Regions from separate parts of the Homo sapiens genome. Here region 1 is linked to region 2. The links come from fine-mapping of genetic effects on gene expression. A gene starts in region 2. The other region holds a variant in brackets. All regions are shown on one strand. Distances are from middle to middle.

Region 1 (11,838 bases), 80 kb before region 2:
CAGCAAATACGTGCTACATCTAGCTGTGATATCAGTGAATTAAGCTGTACCATTTGTCTACTGAAGTTGGAAACTCGTACACCTCTTCCAGAGGGGCGCCTGTCCTGGCAGAAGAATGCCGGAGGCGCTAAGTGCTGGAGAAACAGAGTGAGCAGCACAGCTCCCAGTGCCAGCAGAAAAGCAGAGCAGAGCACGCGCCTGCAAACTCTCTCTGGCATTAAGCTGGGCCAATAACAGCCACATTTACTGAGTGTTTACTAAGTGCCAAGCAATTGCTTTGGCACTTTACATCTGTGGGTTTAATATACCTTCTTAACAATAATCCTATGATGTGGATAATTTGTTTTAAAATGGTCACCTTGAGAGCCCAGTGTAGATACTTGGGTTCTGGGCTGAAAAAAGGCGAATGGTTCACGTGTACACAAAAGCTCCTAGGAAGAAGTTGCTGGAAAACATAACAACCATTATTTTGTAATCCAGAAATCATTTACACTTTGATGGAAAATAAGAACAAAAACTCAATCCAACAACAGTAACAATGGGTAAACTTCTGAGCTCTCTGGTACCTACCATCAGGGTCCTCAAATGTCCGAGGATGAAGAGGCTGTACTTGGCTCGTGTGATGGTGACATTCAATCTCTGCAAACTTGCCAGGAATCTAGGCAATAAAAAAAGAGTTCCTTCTTTGTCTAGAATGACTTAACATGCCCATGTGAGACAAAGGTGGACTCTAGAATGACTCAACGTGCCCGTGTCTGACAGAGGTGGAATCTTGAATGACTCAGTGAGCCCGAGACACAGGTGGACTCTAGAATGACTCAGCGTGCCCGTGTGAGACACAGGTGGATTCTAGAATGACTCAGCATCCTCATGTGAGACACAGGTGGACTCTAGAATGACTCAGCGTGCCCGTGTGAGACACAGGTGGACTCTAGAATGACTCAGCATCCTCATGTGAGACACAGGTGGACTCTAGAATGACTCAGCGTGCCCGTGTGAGACACAGGTGGACTCTAGAATGACTCAGCATCCTCATGTGAGACACAGGTGGACTCTAGAATGACTCAGCGTGCCCGTGTGAGACACAGGTGGACTCTAGAATGACTCAGCATCCTCATGTGAGACACAGGTGGACTCTAGAATGACTCAGCGTGCCCATGTGAGACACAGGTGGACTCTACAATGACTCAGTATGCCCATGTGAGACACAGGTGGACTCTAGAATGACTCAGCGTGCCCATGTGAGACACAGGTAGACTCTAGAATGACTCAGCGTGCCCGTGTGAGACACAGGTGGACTCTAGACTCAGCATGCCCATGTGAGACACAGATGGACTCTAGAATGACTCAGCATGCCAGTGAGACACAGGTGAACTCTAGAATGACTCAGCATGCCCATGTGAGACACAGGTGGACTGCAGGCAGCTTTTCCGGGACTCCTTCACTCCTCTAGAAGTCACAGTGCTTTCTTACTCTCCGTCCCAATACAGGGTACCGGGCACAGAAGAATTCCTATTAAAAACAGGAAACAAACCAAAACCTCGGGGCTTCCTTCAAAGTGATGCATCTATCAATTTCCTATTTTTACCTGGATAAGATAATTGGAAATTTTAACAGTGCAATCTTGAAGCCTTGAAAAATCCTAAAAATGTGGTACCAGCCTAATCACTTTATTCTTACATTTAAATATATCTAGACTGTTAAGATATTGTAGAACTAGTGTAGAAATACATGAACACCAGATAAATATTTCAGTAGATCAGAAAAAGAGCTCAGAAATAGAATTGATGTATGATAAAAGTGAAATTTCAAATTAGCTGGGAAAGAAAGGTCTATTTATAAACTGACCCTGAGATACAACTGGGCTCTGTATATGCAGCCCATCCCAGGGAGGGGCAAAGATTACTTTAATTACTATTTTATTTGAAAACGAACTAATTTATAACCTGTAAATTCTGTCTGCTTCTCATGACAAGAAACAAATAATCATGTAAGAGTCTTGGGCTTGGGATATTTTCTGTCACTCATACAGGTGTCCTTAGCATCTTAAATAAACTGACAGTAGTTAAGGTGAACAAATTTAGCCAAAGCAGGAAAACACAGAAAACAATGACACTTTGACACATACCATGGGGAGTAATATGCCTCTGCAAAGTATAATCTAATTATTTATTTGAATCTTATTAAATAAAAGAACAGATTCACACTATGAAATGGGTTAATATAAAAGACACCAAGGCCGGGCGCAGTGACTCACGCCTGTAATCCCAGCATTTTGGGAGGCCAAAGTGGGTGGAGCACTTGAGCTCAGGAGTTTGAGACCAGCCTGGGCAACCTGGCAAAACACTGTCTCTACAGAAAAATACAAAAATTAGCTGGGCGTGGTAGCACATGCCTGTAGTCCCAGCTACTCGGGAGGCTGATGCAGAAGAATCGCTTGAACCCAGGAGGTGGAGGATGCAGTGGGCCAAGATTGCACCAAGATCTAACAGTGGGTCTATTTCACAACTTAAAAGAGAAACTTTCATAGTATTACACAGGTTTTCACAAAAGAAAATTAAAAAAGCAAATGGTGTTCTCTAACAGTGATAATGAACCTAATCCTGAACTATAAACAAGCAACAATGTATACAAGTATAAAAGAGCAACAATGACAGTAACTCACCCAATTGAACCTTGGATGCTATTTGCTCTGACACACGTAACAATAACACAATCCTTCTGCCGACCCTGGAATGCATCCACAGTGTCTACTTCTGCTGGTCTATTTACAAAAGAGAAACATATTTACTGGAAAAAGGAAGATAATTATTAAGTATACATATTTATAAACTAGTTTTTTGGTTTTTTTTTTTTGAGACGGAGTCTCACTCTGTCGCCCAGGCTGGAGTGCAGTGGCGCGATCTCAGTTCACTGCAAGCTCTGCCTCCCGGGTTCACGCCATTCTCCTGCCTCAGCCTCCTGAGTAGCTGGGACTACAGGTGCCCGCCACCATGCCCAGCTAATTTTTTGTATTTTTAGTAGAGACTGGGTTTCACTGTGGTCTCCATCTCCTGACCTCATGATCCGCCCGCCTCGGCCTCCCAAAGTGCTGGGATTACAGGCGTGAGCCACCGCGTCCGGCTTAGTTTTTTGGTTTTTGACAGTCTAGCCTCACTCTTGTCCAGGCTGGAGTGCACCAGCATATTCATAGCTCACAGTAACTTGAACACCTGAGCTCCGTCTCAGCCTCCTAAGTGGCTAGGACTACAGGCATGGACCACCACCCTAATTTTTCCATGTTTTGTAGAGATGGGGTCTTGCCATGTTGCCCAGGCTGGTCTCAAACCCCTGGCCCCAAGCAATCCTTCCACCTCACCCACCCAAAATGTTAGGATTATAGATGTGAGCCACCATGCCTGGCCTTACAGTCTTTATTTTTAAAGAAACTTAAAAAAAAAAAGAGAGAGAGAGAGAGACAGAGTCTCACTGCGTTGCCCAGGCTGGACTCAAACTTCTGGGGCTCAAGCAATCCTCCTTGCCTCAGCCTCCCAAGGAGATGCATGCACCACCATGCTCGGCTGCTAAGACATTTTAAAAACATTTTCTTGGAGGTTAGCCTGAATTTCCTCCTCTCTCCATTCCCTGGCAACCACTAATACACTTCCTGTCTCTACAGATTTTCTTATACTGTGAGTTTCACATAAATGGAATTACAAAATGTGATTATTTGTGACTGTTCCCTTAGCATAACATTTCCAAAGTTCATCCATGTTGTAGCATGTAACAGAACTTCATCCCTTTCTTCATTAATATTTCATTGTACCACATAGTACAAGTTATTTACTTAGTGTTAAGGTGGCAGCGCTCCCCAAATTGATCTACAGATGTAATCCAACTGCCTTTTTTACAGAAATGGTCACGCTGATACTAAGTCTTTGGCTGGGCATGGTAGCTCATGTCTGTAATCCAAGCACTTTGGGAAGACTGTGTGAACTCAGGAGTTTGAGAACAGCCTGGGCAACTTAGGAAGACCTTGTCTCTACTAAAAATGAAAAAACACACAAAAAATGCAAAAAACAACACAACACTAAGTCTTCCAGTCCATGAAAACAGGATGTCTTCACATTTATTTAGGTGGTTTTTTTTTTGTTTTGAGATGGAATTTCGCTCTCGTCGCCCAGGCTGGAGTGCAATGGAGTGATCTCAGCTCACTGCAACCTCTGCTTCCCGGGTTCAAGTGATTCTCCTGCCTCACCCTCCAGAGTAGTTGGGATTACAGGCGTGTGCCACCATGCCCAACTGATTTTTGTATAATTAGTAGAGACAAGATTTTACCATGTTGGCCAGGCTGGTCTTGAACTCCTGACCTCAGGTGATCCACCCACCTGGGCCTCCCAAAGTGCTGGGATTACAGGCATGAGCCACTGCACCCGGCCTATTTAGGTGTTCTTTAATTCCTTTCAACAACGTTTTGCAGTTTTCAGCGTACAAGTCTTATACTTCTTTGGTTCTATTTATTCCGAAGTGTTTTATTCTTTTTGATGCTATTGTAAATGGAATTGTTTCAACTTCCTTTTCAGATTGTTCATTGCTAGTTGCATCAAAATATAATCAACTTTCACATATTAATCTTGTATCCTGCTAAGCTTATTATCTCTAATAGTGCCTTTGAATGGCTTTGTTAGGGTTTCTAGAAATAAGATCATGCCACCTATGAAGAGAGAGTTTTACTTTTTTCTTTCCAGTAAAGATGCTTTTTATTTATTTTCCTTACTTAACTGCTCTGGCTAAAACCTCTAGTACAATGTTGAAAAAAAGCATTAAGAGTTTCAAACATCTCTCCTGATCTTAGAGGAAAGGCTTTCATTCTTACCATGAAGTATAACGTTAGCTATGAGTTTTTTGTAAATGCCTTTTATTAATAAAAAAAGTTCCTTTGTATTCTTTTTTTTTTTTTAAATCATCAAAGCATTTTGGGTTCCGTGCAACTTTTTTTTGTATCTACTGAGCTGATTATGTGGGTCTCCTCATTCTTCTAATATGGTATATCATATTGATTTTCATATGTTGAAGCAATCTTGCATTCCTGGGATAAATCCCACTTGGTCTTGATGTATAAATCCTTGTAATAACCTGCTGAATTCAGTTTGTCACTATTTTGTTGAGGATTTTTGTATCTAGTCATAAAGGATTTGGATCTGTAGTTTTCTTGTGATACTTTCCCTTGGCTTTGGTATCAGTGTAATACTGGCTTCAAAAAATGAATCTGAGTGTTCTATTTATTGGAAGCATGTGAGAATGACTTGTGTTCATTCTTCTTTTAATATTTGATAGAATTCACCAGCTTAGCTTGGTTCTGGGCTTTTCATTATTGGGAAATGTTTCATTATTTGTTATAAAGGTCTGATTTTTTCTTTTTTTTTTTTTTTTGAGATGGAGTCTCGCTCTGTCACCCAGGCTGGAGTGATGCAGTGGGGCAATCTCAGCTCACTGCAGCCTCCGCCTCCTGGGTTCAAGCGATTTACCTACCTCAGCCTTCCGAGTAGCAGGGACTACGGGAGCGCGCCACCACGCCTGGCTAATTTTTGTATTTTTTTTCAGTAGAGATGGGGTTTCACCATGTTGCCCAGGCTGGTCTCAACCTCCTGACCTCAGGTGATCTGCCCGCCTCAGCCTCCCAAAGTGCTGGGATTACAGGTGTGAGCCACCACACCCAGCCTACAGGTCTGATTTTCTATTGTTTTCTAGATTCGATTTTGGTAGTCTGTGTGCTTCTAAGTTAAGATGATTTTAAGGTTATGGATCTCCAATATTTAATCTTTAATTTTACTGCTGAGGTAAGAAGGAAACAAAAACATGATTTTCATTCTATACATAAAGGCAATACAAGGGTTAAATCATTTATTTAAAGTGAAATGTTACTTTTAGTCTTGCTAGAACAAGAATTCAGATGAACAAGTCATGGAACTAAAAGGTAAAGACCTGGCAAGTTTCTTAGTCAATTCCACTGCCAAGGAGAATGTTGACATTCCAACTGCCAGGAAGTAACCTGTCTACCCAGGAGCCACACAGCACAAGTCTATGAAAGCCAGCAGCATCCCAGCTTCCTCGTGCCGTATCACCAATTTGCACAGACCACTCCTTAAGAGTTTCCCTTTTCTTCTTTCCTTCTATATCCTCTCATTCTAATTCAACAAGAAAATTGGAAATATTTATAAAAATGCCTCACCCTTTTCTATCGAACTCTTTGTCCAAATCCTTCTGAATCATCGTCTTCTGGGCCTTGTAATGAGTTATTATGCCAATGTTTCGAAAACTAACATCCTTTCTTTTGTCTTTAATAAGCTTAATTATTTCCATCACCAGTTTTATTTCTTGAACATTTATATATGAGCTAAACAAGATGGAAAAAGAAAACAC[A/C]GTGTTATCAAAACTAATAGCAGGCTAATTGCTAACTTAAGTTCCACTGAGTTTGTTTCCCATTATAGTAAAGGGCAGGCAGATAGGCTTCATCTTTTATTCAGCTAGCAGTGACTCCAAGAGGCTGTTACAATGACCATTAATATGGTATATATGAATAAATGTGAAAATACTATGGTAAATATGAATACATGTGAAATGCCCAGTGAAAAATGAAGTTGTAGAGAGAAAAGAGTTTGAAATCAACTGAAGTTTAGGCACCACTTTCTTCATCTGTTGAAACAGGGAGAGCAGTATTAAGAACAGCAGTATTAATAAGAACAAAGATGTGAATAAGAGATAGCTAACATGAATTAAGGATTAACTATCTTCCGAACACTGAGAAAATGCTTTACATGTATGATCTTCCTTGTCCCTCACCACTGGCTGCATACAACACACACCACACAACCGAGCAGCTGCCATCCACACAGACTCAATGTGAAGGATGTGTCCCACTTGACCCCAGTTGAACAACATGGGGCCCTGGAGCAGGTTCATGTCCTCTTTGTAGTCCTCAGCAGCCTCATATCCTGCACTCTCAACCCCTCCTGAAAACACATGCTCCCTCATGACCATACCGGACCCAAAATGCACCAAGACCAGGGGATGCACTGCCCCATCCCTTGATTCCTGAGGCTACCTTACCCGCCTTGCTTTACGAGCCTTAAATACCCATTCTCCTAACTTTGAGACTTACTAAATGGACAACCCAATCAGCTAGCGATCTCTTCCATCCCTGAAATCCTCATGATGCTCTGCGGCTTAACTCGCAATCCTCTGCTCTCCTCCAAGAGGCCTCATTAAAACCTTTAGGCTGCAGTCCCTCCAGCACTACAATCCCATGGCCAACAACTCCTCTGTATGTGTAACCTCTTCAATGAGTGTTCCCTACTTCCACCTCTGTATCTTATCTAACGCCTGATTCTCGCCTGAGGACGCCACCTGCTCTGCAGCCATCCCATGATGTAGAAGTGGGATTTGTGTTTCCTCCTACTTCATGACAGAGTGGCACTTGTATCCGTGCCAACAAATGCTGCCCCTAGACCATTCCTCCCCTACTCTCTCACAAGAATCCCCAGCTCCTCTGACATTGCTGCTTCTAGCAACACCACTCCTCTTTGCTGTCATATACAGACCACCTGAACACATGCCCTTATTCACAACCCAATACCATCCAACCTCTGTCACTACTTCCTTCCTCCCTTTCACATTTTCATTCAACTGAATTTATACTTAGCCTTCACAGTACTTAACCCAACTGGAATAACTGCTTACCCAGGTGATGACCTGCTGAAGGCCTGTCTTCCCATGAGACCACCATCTTGCAATGGGCACGTCTGTTTCCCTCACTGCTGTGAGCTCAACAAGTATCTACTCAAGCACTTGCTTATGACATTAGGTAATATTATCCCCATTATACAGAAAAAAGAAGCATCAACTTAAGTGAACATGACTGTGCCCTGACACTAGGCAGAGAGATGTGTATAGGAAATGTATTTAACAGAAATATGAATGCAAATCATGTAACAATTCTGGGACTATCAGAGGACTGAGGCAAGAGGAAAACATACTCATTATCCCGTCTTTCTGAACCATCTCCAACATCAAACACAAGGTATGGCTGAAATGGCCAATCTGATGAACATCGAATGGCTTCTGTCTGTCTGTAAAAAAAAAAAAGCAGTCAACATTCAGAATAAAGTCAAGATTTAAGAAAATATCTTGGTATTACTACAATTTTTTCTGTGTGGTGATGTGGGCTGGGGCAAGTAAGGGGATAGCAGGAATATTCTTTTCTAGACGTGTATTAGTGAAAGGTACAAAACAAATTCTATTTCTTTCCTGGTGCTGGGAGAGGTGTCTATATCATTAAAATATAACAAGTATGATTGGAAAGACACTCATAATAGAGTAAGCCACAGAATACTATGTTAAGTATGGTCCCACATTTTTCCTTCAAAAATTTAAAAAGTAAAAAAAGATATGCATAGTAAAAGGACTGAAACTTGGCCAGGTGCGGTGACTCTCGCCTGTAATCCCAGCACTTTGGGAGACCAAGGCGGGTGGATTGCTTGAGCTCAGGAGTTCGAAAGCAGCCTGGGCAACATAGCGAAACCCCGTTTCTACAAAAAGAAAAATACAAAAATTAGCCAGGCATGGTGGTGACTGAGTGTAGTCCCAGCTACTCAGGAGGCTGAGGCAGGTGGATTGATTGAGCCTGGGAGGTCGAAGCTGCAGTGAGCCAGGACTGTGTGCCACTGCACTCATCCTGTGTGAGTGACAGAATGAGACCCTGTCTTCAAAAAAAAAAAAAAAAAAAAAAAGGACTGCTGAAAGTGGATATACCAAAATGTTACCAGTGATTATTTCTGGGTAGTATAAATATAGGTGACTTTTTCCCCTTTTCTTTTTTATGTGCTTTGCTGTATTCAACATGATGGCTATTATAACAGGACAAAATTATTAACCCTTCATGATTTATGCTTTTTATGACAAGACCTAAGACGACAGTAAAATGTCTATTCTTCATAAGTAGCTAAACTACAACAAAATAAGGTCACAAACAATAAGGGGAACTCACCTATTTGTTTTTAAGTTTCTGTTATAAACATAATTAGAAGGGAAGAGGCATATGTCTGGATGCATCCTGTACTGAACAGTGAGCTGTAGAATGGGCAGCCTGCTGATCATGTTGTGTTCTACATTCTCTTCCAGCAGTCTGCAGAAGCGAGCCATCATTGACTGGTCGTAGCCATACTCCTGTGCTTTCTGTGAGGGGCAAAATAAAGCAACAGTTTCCAAGAATTCATTTATATCTTTCCCACTATTATAAACACAATTACTGAGATCTAATACGTATATGGCAACGTTCAGGTAGCATAAGATTACCAACCACAGCTTCAGAGAAAAAAGGTGTTTCTGACTCTGAGCCTCAAAATGCCATGAATCTTTTTTTTTTTTTTTTTTTTTTTTTTTTTTTTTTGGAGACACAGTCTCGCTCTGTCACCCAGGCTGGAGTGCAGTGGCGTGATCTCAGCTCACTGCATCCTTCACCTCCCAGGTTCAAGCGATTCTCATGTCTCTGGCCTCCTGAGTAGCTGGGATAACAGGAATGAGCCACCACACCTGGCCAAAATGCCATGAATCTTGAATATATGTGGAGGTCTTTTCTACTCATATACTGCTAATGAAAGAGATATGATCTTGTGAAAGACAACTGATGCTATTTTGATGCTACAAGACGCCACCCAAAAAAACCAGTAATAAAGGAAATGTAACACAGATTTTAACAATTATTTCTGGGGGTACACCCTCACAGACAGACATATTGAATGCCACTGTAAACAAGCCTTTTGAAGACAAAATTCTTCATTCATCCATCTAATATGTACTAAGCATCTATAATTTGAAGTGCTAAGACCACTAGAGTGAATAAGATGAAGTCTCACAGGACTTAATTTCCAGTGAAGGAAACAGACTCGACTTATGTGTTGACCATCCCTAATCCAAAAATCCAAAATACTCCAATGAGCATATCCTTCGAGCGTGAACTTTAAGCATAAAGTCAGCACTTGGGAAGTTTCAGATGGTGAAGCATTTCAAATTTTTGAATTAGGAACGCCGAAGCTGTGCTAAATGGATTTCACAAACCAAATAATGGGTTATATTCTGCAATCTGAAAAACAGTGACCTAAGTGACAAGTGGGATAAACTGTCTTGATGTTACCACAGTTGTGCCTTGGGATCTACTTTCCGATGGCAGCAACACAGAAAGTTTCAAAAAGGGGAGGGGGAGGGATAGCATTAGGAGATACACCTAATGTAAATGACGAGTTAATGGGTGCAGCACACCAACATGGCACATGTATACATATGTAACAAACCTGCATGTTGTGAACATGTACCCTAGAACTTAAAGTATAATTAAAAAAGAAAAGTTTCAAAAAGTACTTTATCTTAAATAACCCTGAAGTAAAAATGTGCTGAAAACTTCACTAAGATGATGGAATCTTCATGAGTGATGTGAAAGATACTGGCACTGAAGACGTGCAAAGCCTGAATAAACTTGTTTCACAAACTATGGGAGTGGAAGAAAGGCATTACTTCTTAACCTATTTATATGTGTGATTTTAAACAGGTTTGTGAAAGCATAAAATAATTATTAATAGATACATGCCAATTTTCCCTAAATCCTCAAAAGTTTATCTGCGTTAGCTCACAAAACCTAATTTTTAATCTTTTCTTTGGGGAAACAGAAAAGGAAGTTATGTAAGGTAACGCATCTACCTCCAGACAAAACCTTAGTCCATTCTACAAATGACATAGATTTATTAATATATATTCTGACATGGGAGGATGTCCCTGATTTACTGATTGAAAAAAAAACCAATTCTGCACAGAATGATTTTGCCACCTTTAAACAAAACCAAACCCACGTACATATACACATAAACATATACATGTATACAAACCATATACCACTTTTTAGTAACTGACTCACTGTTAACCCCTAGAATACAAACACCATAAGGGCAGGGATTTTGTCTGTTTTCTTCACTGTCATAACCCCAGCCCCTAAACAGTGCCTGAATTATGGTGGCACTCAATATATACATACTGAAAAAGACGAATAAACACACAAATGCCTAGCAATATCTGTTAAAAATACTCACTTTCACTGTAATTACCACTAGAAACAGGTGGTCAAAAAAGGCACCTTATGGAAATGAACTTTGTAATTATTTTCTCAAAATAGCCTGTTTTATTTGTACAACAATTTAAACAGCACAAATGGATTTTTTTTTTCTAATTTTTGTTGTTTTTATCAATCATTGAAGTAGGCAGTAAAGTTGAGGCCCATTAACAATCTCTCTTTTCACTATATGCCAAGGCCCTTCAATGAAATCCTGCATCATTTAAAGAAATGGGATACAGAATTTGCTCTTCATTATTCTCCGTGAACAAAGTTACCTGCAGCAGTTCTTCCCTACACACACGGGTTTTCACTGGGTGACGGGTGTGCTTCTGGGCCACACTCTAACATGATCATGTACCTGCGCTCAAATGTCATACAAAGAACTGCACTATCATTCTGAATAATTCCGAAATCAAAAACCACTAACGATAACCACCTGCATTCATTCCAAGCTTCAACAAAAATGCTTTGAAAATGATCTGTTCTCTAGGATTATTTATGAAGCCACTGCTCAATTATCTGTATAAATAATCTATGTTATTAGTAAAAAATACACATTTCATTAAATTTCAAAACCTCTTCAGATTACTTCAAAACATCTACTGGATCCTGATTCTAATGTGCATTTCCAGGAGAATCTTTCATGAGATTAAAAAAAACCAACAGAGAAGAGTAGACTACAGTCTGGTTCTTCTCTT
Region 2 (11,838 bases):
ACAAAAAAATTTTAAAAATTAGCAGAGCATGGTGGCACATGCCTGTAGTCCCAGCTACTCAGGAGGATGAGGTGGGAGGATGGCTTGAGTCCAGAAGGTTGAGGCTGCAGTGAACCGTGATCGCACCACTGCACTTCCAGCCTGGGCAACAGAGCAAAGACCTTGTCTCCAAAACATAGCAAAACAAACTATGAAAACCCATGTGGCCCATGGAAAATCATGAGACAGCACTTCCACTTTCAGGAATTTGTCCTAAGAATATACTCGAATGTGTAAAATGATATATGTATAATCACTCCACTGCACTCCAGCCTGAGTGACAGAGTGAGACTCCATCTCTAACAACAACAAAAACAAAACAAAAACAAAAAAAAAAACCCACAAAGTTGAAATCGTATCATCATTTCTCTGAATACTTCCAACGGAGTTCAAACTTACTCTCTTCCCAGCTATCAAGCTCTGAAAAATATTGCCCATCTAATATATTTTACCTCATGCAAGAATGGCAATTCATCTCTTGCTTTGTGGTACTCAGCCACACACTCCAAGCAGTAGCAGAGGTCTTCGTCGGCTGTTTGAAATTCACCGGACGGAGTGTTGGAAGCATAGCGCTTTAGGAAGTCAATGGTGGAAGCACCACCTGGCGTACACCAACAACATGTGCTCATTCTGTACCTACAGCCAGAAAAGATGACATCAAGAAGAAAACCAACTTCAGACCTACTGTGTGTCAAGAATAGGTACACTTTCAACTTGTGACCCTGGTTTCAATTTAAAATGTGTCACTAAAACCCAAATCTTCTGCTGGCTGGCTTATCAATCACTGATTCACTAAACTAAAAAAATCCTTCTATTTTTGACATACGAAAAATACAGAAAAATAAAAGCATTGTATAAGGAATAAGTATCATAAGGCAACATAAAGTTGTGCTACAGAGAAGGCTCAAAACAACACAGTACCGATAGAAAATATATAGAGACCCAGACTTACCAATATTTTCAAAGTACAGATTTTGGAATGGGGAAAAAAGTTACCAACTACAAACTTAAGTTCATTTCATAAACTGAATGGACCTAGCTCAGCATTCTCATCAGGAGTGATGTCACCCTCAAAGAGATCTAAAACTAGTTAGTGGGACGTGAAAAAGCCCTCCTCTTTTTAGATATAAAGCTCAGATAAACATACAGTACATAAAGAGAGACACAATATATTGGTGGTAATAAAATTCACAGGAGAGGCAGTTTTTAAAAATGTTTAAAAACTCTCCACTCAGGGAGAAAGGTTAGAAGGAGGTTAAAAAACCTAAGTAAGCTGGGAACGGTGGCTCATGCCTGTAAGCCCAGCACTTTGGGAGGCCGACGTGGGCAGACTGCTTGAGGTCCGCAGTTCGAGACCAGCCTGGCCAACATGGTGAAACCCCATCTCTACTAAAAAGAATACAAAAATTAGCTGGTGGTGCGCATCTGCAATCCTAGCTGCTTGGGAGGCTGAGGCAGGAGTACTGCCTGAACGTGGGAGGCAGAGGTTGCAGTGAGCCAAGATTGCGCCACTGCACTCCAGCCTGGGTGACAGAGTGAAACTCTGTCTCAAAACAAACAAACAAAAGAAACCTAAGTGAAGACACTGAGTATGTGGGAATGGAAACATGGCAGTGTGAGATTTTTGAGTATCACCGTCACCCTAAAATTCAGAATACATAATCTTTACCAACAGGAAATATAAAACATCTCAACAGAAACTAGGCTTGGCTGCTGAGGCTTCTGTGGCATAAAGCTAGTTCCTAAAATAAAGTGATTTTTTAAAATTCTTTAATTTCTTCTTATACCCACAATTAAATAATTATTTAGAAATGCATAAGCATAATCAAATACATTGTCATATGAATTGATTTTTTAAAATTTATTAAATATTACTTTTACTTATGCTTTTGAAGAGGTATACTTTCTTCATGGTTCTAAAAAGAATTTAGGGTAGCTTTCAACATTAAAGTACATACACACAAAAGGACATTTAAAAATGAGATTTCAAAAAACAAAATCAAAACTTCTTTAGAAGAAATTTAATTTCACTAAGTTCTACATGAGGAGCTTCCTGAAAGCAGAGAAAAAGGATAACATGAGTTACACAGTTCTCATCGACGTGGGGGGGAAAAAGAGTATGCAGTGATAGCCGCAGAGTACCGCCCTTTCCTGACACAAACTCTAACTCAATTACATTTTATTAATGCCTTCTAGTACAAGGGCACTGCAGACTAGGAAATGCCAAGTAACATGGGATAAGGTCTTCAATGTATTTCTGCAGAATTTAAAATTATTTTATTCAAAAGAAGAATTACTTATACCTAAGAGGCCAACATCACACTACTAGTAAGTTAACAGCTTGCAGAAGCTGTTTTTTTTTCCGGTAACCTAGTTTAATATGGAAAGTGAACTTAGAAGACGTAAGAACAGAAAGTGAAACTTCATGGAGGTTTCTCAAACATTTGAAGCATGATTTCAGCAGCTAACAGACTGCAGCCAATTTAAGCTTTAAAAAACTTAAGTGAGACTACCATGCAAATAAAATGTTGCATACTTCTTTTCCCACTTACCTTACTTGAAGCTCCAAATGTTGTGTACTTTAAAATAAGTACTAACAAAGGAGACAACAAAAGAAACCTTCTATTAAGAAAATTACAGAATTTGCTTTTTATTTCACTTAGAAAACTAGCCTATTTCCACAACCAAAAAAGCAAGACTAAATTTTCTCAAAATATATAGGAGTTACTACCAAAATAGGTGAGTGTCATGGCCGCTAGAAGATAACGGAGAATACTGCTGCAGAGCACACCAACAAGAGAACATGTGCTTCCATGGTTCTTCTTCAAAAGGCTGTGTGTGTGGTTTTGTCTTCAAATTTAAAATCATCACTGGCCTAATGGCTAAGCCCAGGAAACCTCAATAGGGCATATTTTGTCTTTAAGGAGAAAATTATTGCTTCTAAACTACTGTGAATCCTCTTAAGCTTTTATACAACTCAGTTCTTCTTGAGGTCTATTTTGTTAGTTTCATCAGACTGTAACGGCTTGCAATCATTAGTGAATGACAAATGGGTGTGTCCAGACAATACTCAAGTTGCAAAACCAAAATTAAAGCAACTCTCTGAGCACCCACCAAAAAGAGAGCTAATGTGTCAAAACCAAAAATATAGGATGCTTCACCATAGGTATTACTGTAATTTTCTACAGACTTATCCTTAGGCTATCCATTTCTCAACATTAACTAGCCAGAAACTTCAAATAACAATCTCTTTCTTCTACACTTCTCAGCTAAACATCTGGAAGTTTAGATTCACTACCTCCCAGCTCTTCAGCTCCTTTGCACTCTGGCTTCTACCCTTACACTCCACTGAATGTGAAGTCCCTAACAATCTTTACATTACCAATCCAATAGGTTCCTGACCTGACTCTGCTAAAGCATATGAAAATGCTGCCCATCCTTTCCTTACCTACAACACACCATTTTTTGGACACCACTTCTACCCAATCACCTTCATAATTACCCCTGCCTTTGTTACTCATATAAATGCTAAAGTTTTCGAAGGCTTGTCCTGAGAATTCTCACCTCTTCATTCAGTACTCTTTCTGGGCGGCCTACTTCAAACCACTGCTTCAACTACTGCCTAGATTGAAGCTGCCCAGACTGAGAATGTATTGTAAAACTTAATGCAGGCAGGGCGCAGTGGCTCACACCTGTAATTCCAGCACTCTGGGAGGCCGAGGCGTGAGGGATCACGAGGTCAAGAGATCAAGACCATCCTGGCCAACATGGTGAAACCCCGTATCTACTAAAAATATAAAAATTAGCTGGGCATGGTGGTATGCACCTGTAGTCGCAGCTACTGGGGAGGTTGAGTGAAATGATGCACTGTTCCACCTACTCAATAACTGACAGCCTAGCCTAGAACTCCAGATATATTCAATATCCAACTGCATACAGTGTATCTCTACTCACATATCTGACAGGCACCTCAAAGTAAACATGACCAGAACCCAACGAAGTCCTTCCCTTAAATCTGTTATTTGTTCTATATTCCCTTGTTGATGACATTACCATACATTCAATTTTCAAACCAGTAACCTAGGAATTATCCTATACGCTCCTTCTCCCTCAGCCGCAATCTCTGAGCTCCAGAGCCTACCCCTTAATTACATCTCTACTTTCTTCTCAGTGCAACCGCCACTGCCTTAGTTCAGTACATTTTCATCATTTGCCTGGATTACTGAAGAAGCCTAAATGATCTATTTCTTCTTTGATCGCCATCAATTCCTCCTCCAAAATGCTGCCAGAGGCCAAAGCCCCAAACTGGACTTCGAAAGCACAAATGACTCCTCCTCCAATGTTGGGATAAAATTCAAATTGCTGAGCTCAACACACACAAGGCCCGCGATGATCCAGCTTCCACATCATCTCTTTCCTCCACACTTACCTCCCTTGACTTGCTCTTCCTAAAACCATTCATGGTGACTGGTATTCCCTGCCTTTATGGAAGCTCTTCCACTGGCCTTGGAAACCCACCCTCCTACCTCTGCCCGGTACTTAACTGTGAATACACATCAGACTTACCTCAGGAACTTAAAAAAAAAAGTAGAAAAGATCCTATGGATAAAATTGTTTCCCTTTTAAAGAACTCCACTAAGATTCGAAGAGAAAGCTGGATTTGAGAACAACCAGTGTGCAAGCTCTTCCTGAGTGTCATCACGTCTGGGGGGGGGGCCTGTCCGACCCGTCCTCTCTTCCAGTCTATCTCTGATGACCTTCTTCTCTGTCCCTTTAGGACTCTGCACATGTTTCCATCATTGCACTTACCTTGGTGCTCTGAACTCCTGCTAAAAAAAAAAATTATTACCTGGACAAATGGCCTACAGAAAAGTGATCGTCTCAGCTGGGCTTAGTTGTGAACAAACACGGATTTGCATTCATATATGCCCAGACTCTGGCCCCAAAAGAACATTTCTGAAATTAAAAAACAAAAAACGAAATTGGTAAGTGGCATTTATACTCTATATCCCATCTGAGCCTGGTATCGATCCTATTACAGACAGATACTGCTGGCTGATGAGGAAGCCCAGATAGGTTAGACAACTTGGCTGTGGACTTCCAGGAAACAGCAGAACTGCAATTCTGACTCCCAGTTCCACAAGGGGCTGTCCCCACTCACGGGGACAGCTAGGCACCGAGCCAAAAATCCCCCAAGTTATTAGCCCGCGCAGGTAACATCAATCCTAGGATCCTCAGCTGTGTCACTTATCAAATACCACACTCGGCCTTCTCCTTGTGGAGCTCTTTTCCCTCAAGGCAGTCACCCCCGTTTCACTTGGGTCGTGCAAATTGCTGGGCACATCCTTAGATCCCCAGAAGTTGGGGAGGACGGACAAAGTCCTGTGGCCAGCAGCAAAAGCTCCAGCCCCTCCAAGTGGGAGAAACAGACTCTCCTCCAAACGAAGGGACCGGCCGGGCGCGGCGGCTCGGAGGATCCCTGGAGCAGCTGAGCTCAGCCTGGGAAACACAGCCAGGCCCTGTCTCTGCAACACATTTTGTTTTTAATTAGCCGGGCGTGGTGACGCGCGCCTATGGTCCCAGTTACTCGGGGGGATGAGGCGGAAGGATCGCTGGAGCCCAGGAAGACGAGGTTGCTGCGAGCCGTGACTGTTCCACTGCACTTCAGCCTGGGTGACAGAGCGAGACCCCGTCTCAAAAAAAAAAAAAAAAGAAAAAAGAAAAAAAAACAAAGGGAGGGACTCCAGGCGAGAGGCAGACGAGCGTGTGGAGGGAACCGACACTTTCCACCCCGAGACCTCCCGCTCAGCCCCAAGGAAACTACGCAGTATCCACACCAAAAACAGCTCACACGAGACCGCAGTGTAGACAACGGAAGGACAGGGGGTCGCAGCGGCCGGGTCCAGCGCGCAGGAAGGCAACAGGCGGCCGCCAGCCGTCGAGGGGTGCTCCCGCCCCCGCACCGAGGGAAGCGGCCGAGCCCGCGCCGACTCTTCCCCCATCCGCCCACCGGGACCTAGGCGCCGCGATGGTTCCCCGAAGCGGCCCTGCAAGCACAAGCCGCGCCTGCGCTCACGCCCGCCCGACCTACGGCCTCCAGCCCGCCGCTACCCTCACCGCTCTCTGGCTGGCGTCGGCCTCTAGCCCACCTCCATACCGGGCCCCGCTCTAGGCCACCAGCGGAAGTGCGGGCCCGCAGCCGCAGCTACCAACCAGCTGTTGCCGCGAGGTAGGCCCCGCCCCCGCGCTGAGTCGGCCGGCCGCAGGCCCCGCCCCGGCCGCTGCTTTCTGGTTTTGGTGCCCCCCAGGGGGCGGGGCATGGGAAGAGCGGCCGCGGTGCACCGCCCACGCCGGGCGCTGGCGTCACGTCCGGGCAGCTGGGGCCCGACCAATCCCGAGTCCCCGTCAGGGTGGACGGGGAGAGTTTGCCGCGGAACCTTGACCTCGGCCCCGCCCGGGGCTTCCTGCGGGTGGGGCGGCTCCGGGATGAGCTCTGCTGCGGGTGGGGTCAGCCCTTACCCGCTGGCCATTTCCGTTCCCTCTTTTTTCTTCTTTTTTCCACGCCTCAGGTGTCTCAGCGGATGTACTACGGTGACGAAGTAATTTTTCTCTTTAGATTTCCTTTAAAGACCTGAAATGTAAATTACATAAACGTGTAATTTCGGAGGAATATGTGTATATCCTTTATATTACAAGAAAGGGAGACCTTAGGTCTTGCGAACAATGCGCGCGATGCGCAACACAGCAGAGTAAATCCCTCGCTGGTGCGGTGGCTCCCGCTTCTAATCCCACCACTTTGGGAGGCCCAGGCGGGAGGCTCGCTTGAGCCCGGAGTTCAGAGACCAGCCTGTGCAACATAGCGAGACACCCGTATGTACAAAAAAAAATTAAAACTCAGCCACCGAGGCCGGGCGCGGTGGCTCACGCCTGTAATCCCAGCACTTTGGGAGGCCGAGGCGGGTGGATCACCTGAGGTCAGGAGTTCGAGACCAGCCTGACCAACATGGTGAAACTCCGTCTCTACTAAAAATAAAAAGATTACCTGGGCGTGGTGGCGGGTGCCTGTAATCCCAGCTACTCAGGAGGCTGAGGCATGAGAATGGCTTGAACCCGGGAGGCAGAGGTTGCAGTGAGCCGAGATCGCACCACTGCACTCCAGCCTGGGCAAAGGAGCGAGACTCTCTCTCCGGAAAAAAAAAAAAAAAAAAAAAAATTAGCACCTGTGGGCCCAGCTTGTTGGGAGGCTGAGGCAGGGGGTGGATATCCATTGAGACCGGGAGATCGAGACTGCAGTGAGCCGTGACTGTGCCACTACACTCCAGGCTGGGGAACAAAGCAAGACCCTGTCTCAGAAAAGTCTATAAATAAATAAAAATGAGTAAAATCCACTGGAAAGCCTATCCCCCCCCTTTTTTGTTTTTGAGATGGAGTCGCGCTCTGTCACCCAAGCTGAAGTGCAGTGGCGCAGTCTCGGCTCACTGCAACCTCCGCCTCCTGGGTTCAAATGATTCTCCTGCATCAGCCTCCCGAGTAGCTGGGAGTACAGGCGTGTGCCACACGCCCGGCTAATGTTCATGTTTTTAGTAGAGATGGGGTTTCACCATGTTGGCCAGGATGGTCTCAAACTCCAACCTCAAGTGATCCGCCCCGCCTCGACCTCCCAAAGTGCTGGGATTACAAGCGTGATCCACCGCACCCGGCCCCTACCCCCTTTTAGTAACGCCTACTACTGACCACGATGATGCAGCGTCACCGTCTTACAGTTAATAGAGGAGACAGGGAAATTAAACAATTAGTAGTGGTGACTCAGGCGATAAAAAAAGAGGCTGAGATGGGCCAGCTTGGGAAAAGTGGGTCAGATACAGCCTTACCGAGGAGAACCCTGGCCCGAGGATGAGGAGCAAGCCCAGGGGAACACTGCGGGAAAGGCCCAAGGCGAAGGAAGATTCTAGCAAGGGGGCGTGGCTTGTTGGAAGGGCGTGGTGGCCGTTATGCAAATTTAACCGTCTAAGGAGCAGCACGCGTTGACCGTTATTTTCCTCTTTTCTACTTCTTCATCCTGTCAAATATTTTGAACATATTTTGTTTTATCATATAACACTAATATACCAACACAGCCTTTATACCACCACAGTCATAAAATATAATTTTTTTTTTTTTTTGAGACGAGTCTCGCTCTGTCGCCCAGGCTGGAGTGCAGGGGCGCCATCTCGGCTCACTGCAAGCTCCGCCTCCCGGGTTCACGCCATTCTCCTGTCTCAGCCTCCCGAGTAGCTGGGACTACAGCCACGTGCCACCACGCCTGGCTAATTTTTTGTATTTTTAGTAGAGACAGGGTTTCACCGTGTTAGCCAGGATGGTCTCGATCTCCTGACCTCGTGATCCGCCCGCCTCTGCCTCCCAAAGTGCTGGGATTACAGGCTTGAGCCACCGCACCCGGCCATAAAATATAATTTTTATCATTTTTTTTAATGGAGAAAAGTGCCATGAAGGTAACTTGTGCCCAGAGCCCACAAAAGTCATAATTTCCTCCTGTCCCTGAAGCCCTCTGTAGGCCTTATCATCTTCCCACATTTTTTGTCTGTGAACAACATATAAATTTTACATGCTTTTTAACTCTGTATATGGAATTATGGAGGATGTATTTTTCTGCAAATTGCTTTTTACACTCAATGTTATGTCCTGAGACTCATTGATTCAAGGTGCATTCAGGAATTGTTGAGCCCAAAACTTACACAACCTATAGAATGTTAAACAGAAGCACTGCAATAGACTTTGTAAATATAAAATTAGAAATGAAAATTAATACTTATTTGGAATGAATAAATAAGTACAAATTACAAACTTCTAAAGCTGATAAAACCATAAACATGGCCAGGCGCAATGGCTCAGGCCTGTAATCCCAGCACTTTGGGAAGCTGAGGTGGGCAGATCACCTGAGGTCAGGAGTTCAAGACCAGCCTAGCCAACATGGTGAAACCCGGTCTCTACTAAAAATACAAAAATTAGCCAGGCTTAGTGGTGCATGCCCGTAGTTCCAGCTACTTGGGAGGCTGAGACAGGAGAATGGCTTGAACCCGAGAGGCGAGGCGACAGAGTGAGACCTCATCTCCAAAAATAAATAAATAAATAAATAAATAAATAAATAAATAAATAAATAAATAAATAAAAAGACTGGGAAGTATGAGGCCTCCAGTATCGTTCTTTTTCAAAATTGTTTTAGCTACTTAAGGTCCCTTGCTATTCCATGTGAATATTTAGAATTGGCTTGTCCCGTTTCTGCAAATAAATAAGTACAAGCAGTTGGAATTTTTATAGGGATTGAATTGTATTTTTAGATACATCTGGGGAATCAATTGACACCTTAACAATATTAAGTATAGCAGGTTCTCTAATAAGATCATTTTGTTCAATGTGGTTTTGTTATAACATTGATGAGAAAAAAAAAATCCATTCCTGCTCAAGGCTTTTTTTTGAGACGGAATCTCCCTCTGTAGCCCAGGCTCTGGAGTGCAGTGATGCGATCTTGGCTCACTGCAAGCTCCGCCTCCCAGGTTTCGGTTCAAGCAATTCTCCTGCCTCAGCCTCCTGAGTAGCTGGGATTATAGGCACGCACCACCACGCCCAGCTAATTTTTGTATTTTTAGTAGACACGGAGTTTCAGCATGTTGCCCAGGCTGGTCTTGAACTCCTGACCTCGTGATCCGCCTGCCTCAGCCTCCCAAAGTGCTGGGATTACAGGTGTGAGCCACCGTGCCTGGCCCCGAGGCCACTTTGTGTGTGGAGTTTGCCCCTTCTCCCCATGTCTGTGTGGGTTTCCTCCAGGTACTCCAATTTCCTTCCCGATTCCAAAGATGTGCCAGTTAGGTTGATTGGCATGTCTACATTGTCCTAGCCTGAGTGAGCATGGGTGTGTGTGTGAGTGTATACCCTGCAAAGGGATGGCATCTTGTCCAGAGTTGGCACCCACCTGGCACCAGGAAAGATTCTGGCCATCCGCGATCCTGAACTGGAATGAGTGGGTAGATTATTACCTTGTTAATCTTATTAATAAAGATTAGTCTTTTATTAATCTTTCTTGAATGTATAGCCTACATTTATTTCAATGTTTAATATTAGAAGTGTTTTGTGTGTTTACTTAGAAGTTTGGTCAGAATAACTGGCTTTTATGAGACAAGTCAGAACTTGTGGCTCAGAAGACAAACCCCACACACATTCAAGTGGATGAAAACAAGCCCCCTACAAGGGCTCTATCCTCCTCCTCCTCCTAGTTGTTCTTTAGTTTCAGAACCTGTTTGATGTGTTTTTTTAATCCTATATATATTTTACGGTTGTGACTTATCCATTGTTTGATTTTTGTACAAGAAAATCTTTGCTATAGAAATCAGTATACTATTTTTATCTGGAGAGAAGATATTATGGCAACTTAAACTGTGGTCAGATGTTAGAGAAAAATGTATAAATGCCTTCTTGCCATGCTATCAGTCATATTACATTCATTTTATATTGACTGACAATATCAAAAGTTTCTTTTTTTGTTTGTGTAAACTCTAATTTCTATCAAGGTGTAATGAATATTTAAAGTTGGTTTTTCATTACAAATCTCTCAGTGTTGGTTAACTGATTTTTGCCAGGACCATTATGCATTAAGCAAACAAATTCCACAGCCATTTGGGGGTAAAAGAGTAGGTTACTGATTTGAGATATTTCTTCTTTTTTAATGTAGGTGTCTACAGCTATAATTTGTCCTTGGAACACTGCTTTTGCTACATCCCATAGATTTTGGTATGTTGTATTTTTGTGTTCATTTGTCTCAAAGTATTTTATTTTATCTATTTATTTATTTTTGAGACAGAATCATTCTCTGTTGCCCTGGGTGAAGTGCAGTGGCATGATCACAGCTCACTATAGCCTTGATATCCAGGGCTCAAGCGATCCTCCTACCTCAGCATCCCAAGTAGCTGGGACTATAGGCAAATGCCACCATGCCTGGCTGATTTTTTCTTTTTTTTTTAGTAGAGACAAGGTCTTGCTATGTTGCCCAAGCTGGCCTCGAACTCCTGAGCTCAAGCAGTTCTCCCACCTCGGCTTACCAAAGTGCTGGGATTACAGGTGTGAGACACCACACCCAGCCCAAAGTGTTTAACTTCCCTTTTGATTTCTTCTTTGACTCATTGGTTGTTTTAGAGCATGTTGTTTAATTTCCACATATTTTTGAATTTTTTTGTCTTCCTTCTGTTATTTGCAGTTTCATTCTATTGTGGTCAGCGCATATACTTTTCATGATTTCAACCTTTTTAAATGTATGGAAAATTGCTTGAGGCCTAACATATGACCTGTTCTAGACAATGTTTCATGTGCACACGAGAAGAATGTCTATTCTGCTGCTGGTGGTTGGAATGTTCTGTATATTCCTGTTAGGGCTAGTTGGTTTATAGTGTCATTCAATTCCTCTGTTTCTTTAATGATCTTATGTCTGAGTGTTACATCCATTATTGAAAATGGGGTGTTAGGCCAGGCGTGGTGGCTCACGCCTGTAATCCCAGCATTTTGGGAGGCCGAGGCGGGTGGATCACGAGGTCAGGAGATTGAGACCAGCCTGACCAACATGTGAAACCCCATCTCTAGTAAAAATACAAAATTAGCTGGGCATGGTTGTGGGTGCCTGTAATCCCAGCTGCTCAGGAGGCTGAGGCAGTAGAATCGCTTGAACCCAGGAGGCAGAGGTTGCAGTGAGCCAAGATCGCGCCACTGCACTCCAGCCTGGGCGACAAGGCTAGACTGCGTCTCAAAAAAAAA

The links. PIP is the estimated chance that this variant, and not a neighbour inherited with it, causes the effect.
Region 1: its variant is fine-mapped to the expression of SETX in whole blood (TOPMed, PIP 0.93).

The regions. Positions count from the first base shown.
Region 1 is chr9:132,269,045-132,280,882 of GRCh38, forward strand. SETX (senataxin) reads right to left here. Exons shown (of 26, transcript NM_015046.7): 21 at 9,026-9,213; 22 at 8,016-8,108; 23 at 6,212-6,376; 24 at 2,666-2,764; 25 at 571-658. Among named protein-coding and RNA genes, the nearest start is that of SETX, 80 kb to the right of the region's middle. RefSeq lists enhancers at 1-625, 308-1,507, 626-1,611 and a silencer at 712-886. The variant A/C (reference allele first, on the strand shown) is at 6,403.
Region 2 is chr9:132,348,761-132,360,598 of GRCh38, forward strand. SETX (senataxin) reads right to left here and starts at 6,226. Exons shown (of 26, transcript NM_015046.7): 1 at 6,157-6,226; 2 at 4,889-4,995; 3 at 492-675. The coding sequence starts at 668. RefSeq lists enhancers at 2,433-2,482, 5,490-5,991, 5,811-7,010, 5,992-6,491 and silencers at 5,876-6,085, 6,136-6,525.